2 separate regions of the Homo sapiens genome follow, and region 2 is linked to region 1. The links come from fine-mapping of genetic effects on gene expression. Tissue or cell type: whole blood. Region 1 holds a variant in brackets; the other region holds the start of a gene. All regions are shown on one strand. Distances are from middle to middle.

The links. PIP is the estimated chance that this variant, and not a neighbour inherited with it, causes the effect.
Region 2: FAM53B starts here. The variant in region 1 is fine-mapped to the expression of FAM53B in whole blood (TOPMed, PIP 0.95).

What each region holds. Positions count from the first base shown.
Region 1 is chr10:124,636,559-124,640,949 of GRCh38, reverse strand. The region is part of intron 4 of FAM53B (family with sequence similarity 53 member B); the gene reads left to right. Among named protein-coding and RNA genes, the nearest start is that of FAM53B-AS1, 65 kb to the left of the region's middle. RefSeq lists enhancers at 339-1,078, 2,237-2,737. The variant T/C (reference allele first, on the strand shown) is at 2,165.
Region 2 is chr10:124,742,427-124,746,594 of GRCh38, reverse strand. It overlaps FAM53B (family with sequence similarity 53 member B), which reads left to right and starts at 2,217. Exons shown (of 5, transcript NM_014661.4): 1 at 2,217-2,582. RefSeq lists silencers at 1,979-2,118, 2,249-2,298, 2,319-2,428, 2,479-2,638, 2,959-3,168 and 1 more.

The DNA of each region.
Region 1 (4,391 bases):
TCTGGCTGAGGGCTCTTCCTAGTGTGGGGTCAGCGGGGCGTGCCCTCTGCGGCCTTTGCCGGGCTGTTGCCTCACTCTGCTCTGCCGCAGCGGGGGCTGTCTTTTTCCTCCTCCTCTCTTCCTGCGCTCGGGGCTGTATTGCATGGTGGTCAGCGCCTGATCCCGGATTCAGACTGCTGGCACCTAGATCCTCCCCACTCACTCCCTGTGTGGCCTCACCAAACCTCTGATGACAGTAGCGCCCCCTCCCAAGGTTGAGGTGAGGGTTTAGTGGGGCGATCCCATGGAGCTCAGGGTAAATTCTTAGTAAACATTAGCTCTGCCATCATTCGAGGCTCTGCAGCTGCTAGGACACCAGAACGAACCTCCAGAAATGCCCTGCCTTTGTTCCCAGGACAAGACAAGATTCTAGGGGATGACGGACTGGTGGGATTCATGGCATCTCCACCTTTGGGTTGGTTTTCTGCACAGGAAGAAACACATGGATTTAAGAATGATTTAGGGTGGCTCCAAGCCCTGCACATTCTTCAGGGGCCATCTTGGTGTGCCCCCTACTCCCCTTGTTATCCCAGCCACTGCCTGCCCTTTTCTGGGCCAAGGCTTGGCTGCTCAGGAACACGATCCCTCCCCAACCTGCCGCGCAGAGCTGTGCAGGCTGAGGGTGCTGGCCGGAGAGGTGTGGAGGGCCTGAGGCTGTGCTGCTCCTCACACTCGCAGACAAGCCCACGGGGTGCACCTGAGAATGCACCTGTAGCAAGGTGCAGCCGTCAGGGCTCCCTGAATTGCCTTCTTTGCTGCTCCAGTTGGTGTGGTGGCTCTGCCCAAGGGCTTTCAGCCTTGTAGTTGGGAATTTTTACCAAGCAGCAGGCAAGGCTTGCTGGGGGTTCCTAGGGGTAGAAAGTGATTTTCTGCCATCCTGAATTCTGGTATTTTATGGTAGCAGTGAGGTGCAGCGTGGTGGTTAAGGGTGGGTGCAGGCTTTGAACAGACAGATCTGGATTTGAACCTGGCCCTGCCACTGCCTCTCGGTGGGAGTTTGCCCAAACCAACCTCTGTCTCTCCAGGTGTAAAAGGAGGCTGGCAGAGCCTGTCCCTTGTGCCTGGATGATGAGCTGATGGAGGTGAGAGGTCCCCCCATGCCCGCCCCAGGCATCTGTCTCCAGCACTTTCACTCAGACGCAGCTAGGCACTCTGGGATGCGGGCGCTGTGTTTGTATATTCTGCCAAGCATTTAAACAGTAATGAACAAAAGGGGAAAATATAGAAAGGGGGGGAAAAGCCTATCAGAAAATTCATAGTTATGTTGAGGTGTGTCCCTGGGAAAGTCAAAAGAACAGAGACCCACCCCGGCCAACCCTTCTGGAGCCTGAGTTGGGCCTCTGAGTGGGAGCCCCACCTGCCAAGCACCCTGGGCCTTGAGCTGGGTCTTCCCAGGACCCCTTCTGATCCAGCCTGCACAGCTGCCTCGAGAGGTCTGCCTCGTGATGCCCACCATGACCCGCCCAAGGCCACTCAGCTAGACAGAGCAGATTTTCTATTTCTGTGTCTGTTTGGTGGCAAACAGCATGCCCCGGGCTGCATGCCCACTGCTGAGGATGGGCCCTGTCCTCAGCCCTCTTGGGGATCTCCTGGCACCTCCAGTACTCTTTAAGGAAACATTTCCTGAGTGCCTGAACCTGGCACAGAATCCTGACCTCCTGCTGGGGTGGGTCTGGCCCGGTCCTGGTAGAAAATACAGAACCCAACCCCCCATGGCCCACCTCTGAATCCCTGTGGTCCAGAAGCCCTGAACTAGGGGCTCCCTGTCAGGTGTCACATTGGGTTAGAGAGACGGGACTTATATGGGCAAGAGGCTGAGCCACCCCAGGAAGGGTCCCTGGTGGGTAAGTCTGGGGTGAGTCTCCCCACATCTCCACCCAATAGCTAAGCCAGTATTTGGTTTGCCTCCAGGTGAGAAAAGCCTTAGCAAATGCAGTCTCCAGCAGGTCCTGTGGGGCTCAGGGAACACCAGGGCCCTACATATACTTTGTCCCCACCACTCACTTCTGGCGCTGCAGGTGGGGCCAGCTGAGCCCAGAGGAGCAGAATGTGCCCAGGAATGTCCTTCCACACCCACCACCAGCGGGCATGTCCATGGCCAGCTGCCCTGCTGGACGTGCTGGGA[T/C]GTGCTGGCCAAGCCTTGCTGGTCTGCCACCTTGTCCTCGCCCCTGAAGGGCTCCAGTAGCCAGCGAGGGCCAGCATGGCCTCCCCCGCCCCAGCATGCCTGGGGTCTCTGCTTTCATGGACTGTTTGTGGGTGGGGTGAGGTGGTCAGTGGTCCTCCTTGTGCTGTGTCTGCCTGGGGCTGCTCGTGGGCAACGTGGGTCACTCCCTCTGTCGTGGTGCAGCTGGCACCATCAGGTGCTGTTCAAACCCCTCTGAGCCCCGAGCTGCTTGTGATCTCATTTCAACTCCATGCAGCCCCTCTAGGGCAGTTTTATTTCCCCATTTTACAGATGGGAAAAGAGAAACTCAGATTGCGTAACATGCCCAAGGAAGCACCGGTCCCAGTGTTTTGTTTTGTTTTGTTTTGTTTTTGAGGTGGAGTCTCTGTCACCCAGGCTGGAGTGCTGGAGTGCAGTGGTGCAATCTTGGCTCACTGCAAGCTCCGCCTCCCAGGTTCATGCCATTTTCCTGCCTCAGCCTCCCGAGTAGCTGGGACTACAGGCGCCCGCCACCACACCCTGCTAATTTTTTTGTGTTTTTTGTAGAGACGGGGTTTCACTGTGTTAGCCAGGATGGTCTCAATCTCCTGACCTCGTGATCCGCCTGCCTCAGCTTCCCAAAGTCCTGGGATTACAGGTGTGAGCCATGGCGCCAGGCCCGGTCCTAGTGTTGACAGGCAGGATCCCACCCCAAATGGATCATCATTTCAGTCCTTCATTCAGCCACCTGACCCTGTTTTTCCAGGCATCAGGGTTGCAGCCCACAGAGGCACTCAGACAGGGAGGGCCCACCAGCTCCTGGGTGCGGGGGGCTCCAGAATGGAGAGCGAAATTCCCTCTGCCTGCACAGAGAGGCTCCATGGAGGCTTTGATAGGGCTGGGGTGGCTGTTTCATTTCAGCTGGGCTATGCAATGGCAGGAAGAGTCTTTCGGGAGAGAGAGGTTTAGGAAGCGGGCGATCCTGGCCTATGGAGGGCACTCCATGGGAGGGGCTCCATGTGTCCAGGGGAGCCTGAGTAGGCAGGGAGGGTATGAGTGAGATTGGCCTGGAGATACCGGGCCTTTAGCCCTGGAGTGAGGTGTTTGCTTTTTATTCTGAGAGCTTGGGGAGGAAGGTGCTGGATCAGGTTTGAGACACATTGAGCTGAGAGGAGCGTGGGACATCAGCAGGGACATGCCCATTGGGTCTGGAGCTCAAGATGGGATCTGGCCTATGGTGGCCATTAGGGTGGTCAGCAGTACAGGTCTGAGTTGGATTTGGTGCCCGGTCGCAAGTTGCATCGAAGCTAGTCTCGGTGCAGTGGCTTTGCAGGGTAGGGCAGGGACACCCGGGGCTCAAGCCGAAGACCCTCATTGTGCAGATGGGCCCAGAGCAAGCAAGACTTCCCCAGGGCATGCCCAGCACAAGGCGGCTGGAGCCAAAGCCAGGCACCCACGTCCTGCCAGGTACGTCCTGGACCTGCGCTGCCTCATGGCATGTCTGGTTGTCTCCTGCCACCTGCGGACCCTGTGAGGCCCAGCACCAGCAAGGGTGACCCAGCCCCTGCTCAGAATGGAGGAGAGATGGAGGTCCCCAGAGGTGCATCTAGACCCCATTTCCAAGGGGGCCCTCTCGAGTGGGAGCAGGGAGCATTTTGTCAGAAAGGGCAGCCTCTGGAGGGTTGTGGTGACTGCTTGCTCCTGGAGTTTTCTGTGCTGAGGCCTCTTTGGGCAGATAAATCAGTTGTGTTTCTGCAGCGCTTGCCTGCCTTCTCCTTATGACTTCTGTTTTGATGTTGGGAGGAAAGAAGTCTCGCTCCCCCCAGATCGAGAGGAAGTCTAGCTGCACCTGACTCTGGGAACTCCGCCTCTGCATCTCTTCTGCTTGGTGGGTGTGAAAACACGGCCAGTGGGAGCGGGGCTCTGGCGTCACAGACATCAGAACTGCAGACACCTGGCCCAGGTGTCCGTGTTCTGTGTGTCCTGCGGCCACCGAGGCTGCTCACAGACATGAGAGGCCATTCCCCACCCAGAACCATTGGTGACAAACAGGCAGCCTCCTCTAACCTCCGCAGGATGGGGCCCGGCCTGGCAGCTGCCCCCAGTGGCCAACGTGGGCCTCTGTGGACAAGACAGGTGCAGCTAAGGCTGCAGGTGCAAAGCAATCCCAGGGTGGGCGGGCAGGGGGCCACCTGAACCTCTGTACAGC
Region 2 (4,168 bases), 110 kb before region 1:
CCTGCATTTTATATTTCCCAGGGTGTTCTCCGGCTTAATCAGGTTAGCGTTGGTTGGTGATAATGGAAAAGTTACAAGTAATAGTTTTTAGATTATTTATGGATTTATTCCTAAATTGGCCTATGAATTTGCATTTAGGTGTCTGGTTGTGTGCAAAATCTGGTTTTGACCATTTTGGATTGAACAAAGATAGACAGTTTAGCTCCATGTCCCCACCCCATTGCAGCTTTTACATAGCTTTAAATCTAGAGTTCTACATTTTTAGCTACTCTTCTGAATTGAGCAGAACTCTAATATAACAACAACCTTTTGGGTAGAATTTTTTCTTAGTAAAGAACTATGGAGCTGAGCACTAAGAAGTGAGGATGTTTTATAATATAGCTGTAGGATTATTATATCATGTGGGAAGAACCTATAGTATGGAAGGTTAAGTGTGACACAGGTCTTAATGTATGCATATCTTTTTAGCCTTTGGAGATACAAATCTAGAAAATGAGAAGTAACTATTTATTGGTTAATAGCATAACTTCTTAAGCAAGTATATTCTAGACAGCCTCAAGAAAGCCTCAGAACCAGAAAAACAGGCTGCTTTAGGTTGGAAAGGAGGTGTTACAGCAGAGGAACTGGCCATGACCACCATCCTTGGAATGTGAAACGCAAATCATCCTGAAAGCAACAAGAATAATGGTTGTAATAATTGTTTCCAGGCCTGGGACCCTGCATCTTGTTTTTTAAGTTGACCTGATGAACTAGTAATTGTAGGAATAAACTGAATGTTTGCCAGCAGGAGTCACTCTAGGCTTCCTAATAAAACGTTAGTAAATTAAACTCTGTCCTTAAAGCTCTGAAAGGCTGAGGTGATTGTGTGATATCAGATGGCTTTAGGGAAACACTGACTCTTTTCGTTAAGCATAGCAGCATTCTTAGATTATTCCTTGGGCCTTCTTTTGTTCACCATCGGTTCTTGGATCTTGTTCCTTTCAAGATTGGTCCTTAATGCATTTTTAAAAAGCAACGTATATGGGTAAGGATATCAATATCTTAGTATGCTGTATTCTGTATGTTAGCTCATTTTGGCTTTCTAGGATGAACTGACTCTATCCCACATCATGTAACTTGAAATGAATAGACTCATATCCTTTCCACTGATTGCTGTCCATTCTAATCATGCAGCAGAACTCAGTGGAGCGAGCTGTAGTGTGAAAGGAGATGTCAGTTCATGCTTTTCTGAAAAGAATGGGTCCGGTGTGATGATATTCTGAAATATTTCAGCAATAGCCATGAAATATAATAGTTTCCCAAGCACACAAAGCTCAAGAAGTTAATTGTTCATTTATGTTTGATACTGGGATTGAAACATTGGATTAAAACCAATTAAATGTTCCTAGAAGCAACAGAAAAAGTTTCCTTATTTATGAATAGAACCATTCAAATGGCGCAGACACAATCCATGTAAAGTAATGAGGTGTTTTGTTTTTTTGGCAAAGGAGAACACAAAACAGGCATAGGGAGTTTTAAAAAAACTTCTCTTTAAAAATCGCTTTTTGGATACAAGGTCAATAAAATAACATACACCAGTAGGAAGGAGTAATGGGAAATCTAGGGCTTCACAAGGAAAACAATCCCCCTCCCCCAGGTGAGCAGCACAATGAAAATACTCTGCTTATTCTATCAGGGTTACATTCCTGAACTTAAGTCAACATCCTAAGTTACAGAACTAAACATGCTCTGCCTCTGCTTAGCAACCACAAATCCTTCCTTCGCCAGTTGCATGTATTTTGGATGTGGCTTCTGAAGTACACAGTCACAGCGCCCCGAGTTAGGAAATTTGCGCTTTATTTTCCCAAAGTGTGACAACACTTTAAGGTCCCCCCTCCCCGACCCCACCCGCCCGCTGTCCTGCACGCCACTGAAGTGATCGTTTCTTTTGAACCTCGGCATCTAACAACCCGGAAGCTGGACGCCTGAAGCCTATGCGGCCCAGCGTTTTCATCCCGGCTCGTGCTGGGGGCGGGGAGAGAAGCCCGTAGGGCCTCTGGCGCGGGGCCCGGGCAGCCGCGGTGGCGCGGCCCAGGCCCGGGGCCACTTCCCGCGTCCCGGGGCCTCGCAGGCGCGAGCGCGGCGAGCGGCGCGCGGCTGAGCCCGCAGGACGCCCTCTAGCCCCGCCGGCGGCGCGCCGCGAGTCCCTCACTCCCCGCCCATCGGCGGCTGCGCGCACTGCACACTCGCCTGCCGCCGCCGCCGCACGCCGCCTGCCTCCTGCACGCCGCCGCCGCGCCTAGCGCCCGGGCCCGCGACACCGCCCGCTAAGCGCCGGGCCGAGTTCACGCAGCCGCGGTCTGGCGGCTCCGCGGCGGCGGCGGGTGCGGGCGGCCTGGCCGGTGCCGGTTAAAGGGACGAGTTGCAAACACTTCAGGAAGTGACAAGTCGATTTCCTCCTCCCCGGGAGTCGCTCGTACAAAGCGCTCGGCGCCGGCAGGCGAGCGTGCGCGCGGCGGACGCGCGGCGGGCACCCCGGACGACTTGGCGAGCGCTGGCGGTGACGGCGCGGGGTCCGCGCCCGGAGCGCCCCGCCGCGCACAGTAAGCGACCCGGGGCCGGGCGGCGGCGGCGGTGGCCGGGGGGCTGGCCCCGAGCGAGGTCCGGGCCGTGTGCGTCCCGGCCGCTGGCTGGAGGGAGCCCGGCTCGCGTGCGCAATGGGCTTGCCTTTTTTTTTTCTTTTTTCCTAATGTTGCTGGTTTCCTTTTTTTCTGCCTTGTTTCGCCTTTGGGTTGGGTCGGGCGGTTTCTCCGGGCGCTCGGTCTCGCCCCTGATGCAGGCGTGAGACTTGTCAGAGCACAGGCATGGGGAAGAACAAGCCTGGCTGCGGCGGAAAAGTCTGCGCTCCCCAGGCCAGGGCGGGCGGGCGCGGGGACTGCTGCGCCCGGGGGTGTCCTCTCCGCGTCTCAACTTGAGCCCTGACTAGCCGCTGCGGAGGAGGCGCGGAGTCTCGGGAGCCGGGCGGCCCCATTCGCCCCGAAGTTCCCGCATCGTTTGCAGACAACTCTTTTGTTCGCGGAAGTTTGCACCCGCCACCCCCGGGGTGCGGGAGCGAGGCGGCGGGCTCCGCTGCTGCTGGACTGTCCGGGGCGGTCAGGATGGGGGTGAGGGGGCATTCTGTCCCGGGCGGGGGAAGCCCGCGGGGAGGCCACCGCTGGGGCTTGCGGAGTGGGGGCGTCCGCGCCGGCGTGGCTTTTGCACATGGCGAGAAGGGCCGTCCGGCACAGGCACACTGGTCGAGTCACATTTTTGCTAGTCTTGGATTTTGCAAGCCCGTGGGAGTCAGGTTCCCCGCTCAGGGTTTCTCTTGGGGCAGAGACGAAAGAAACGAGGACACCCAGAATCCGGGGAGGGTTTGCGGTTTGTGTTGTCCCAAGTGTGTTCTCGCTCCCCCCGCCCCCCCACCTTGTCCCCCAGCCCCCAGCTCTCCACCCCCATTTTCGGACTTGGGGAACAATGCTTGTAGTACGGGCCGGGGCGCCGCAGCAGCGACGAACCGCGCGGACAGGTTTGCCCGGGTCCCTCGCGTTCGGACGCCCCCTGAAGCCGAGCTCCTTCCATCTGACCGCCCGGGCTCATTAACACGTACTGTACTTAGGACGATGGTGAACAAAGAAAAGCTCTTTGCAGCGTTTGATGAATGGGATTCTGCCTCCTATAGGCCACACTCCGAGTCTTCCATACGGTACAATCTCCGGACTCGGTGGTGTTAGGAAAGTGGCCCCCGGAATGGCTTGCATTCCGGGTCTGGGATCCTGGGGTGGGCATTTGTGCCGTCGCCTTCGCCGCCGCGCTCGCCTTGCAGGAGCGGGTGCAGATGGAGCCAGGCTGACGGTTGTTCAACAGGAACAAATGTTTGTTCAATTGTTGGATGGTGGAGAAAAGGGACTGTTTCCTATTGACTGCTGCAGGAGTTGGAATGGCATTGTTTATTGGCCTGGGAAGCCAGGCAAGCGTCTTGTGCTGCTTACAACATATTAGCAGACTTCCAAATGACATGCTAGCATATGTGTTCCCAGCAGTCCCCACCGGCTGGCAGGGAGATTCCTCCTTGCTCCAGATCCTGGACTCGTTTAAAAGATGCCACCTGGTTTGAGGACTTGGGAAGGAATGGAGTCAGCCGACCAGG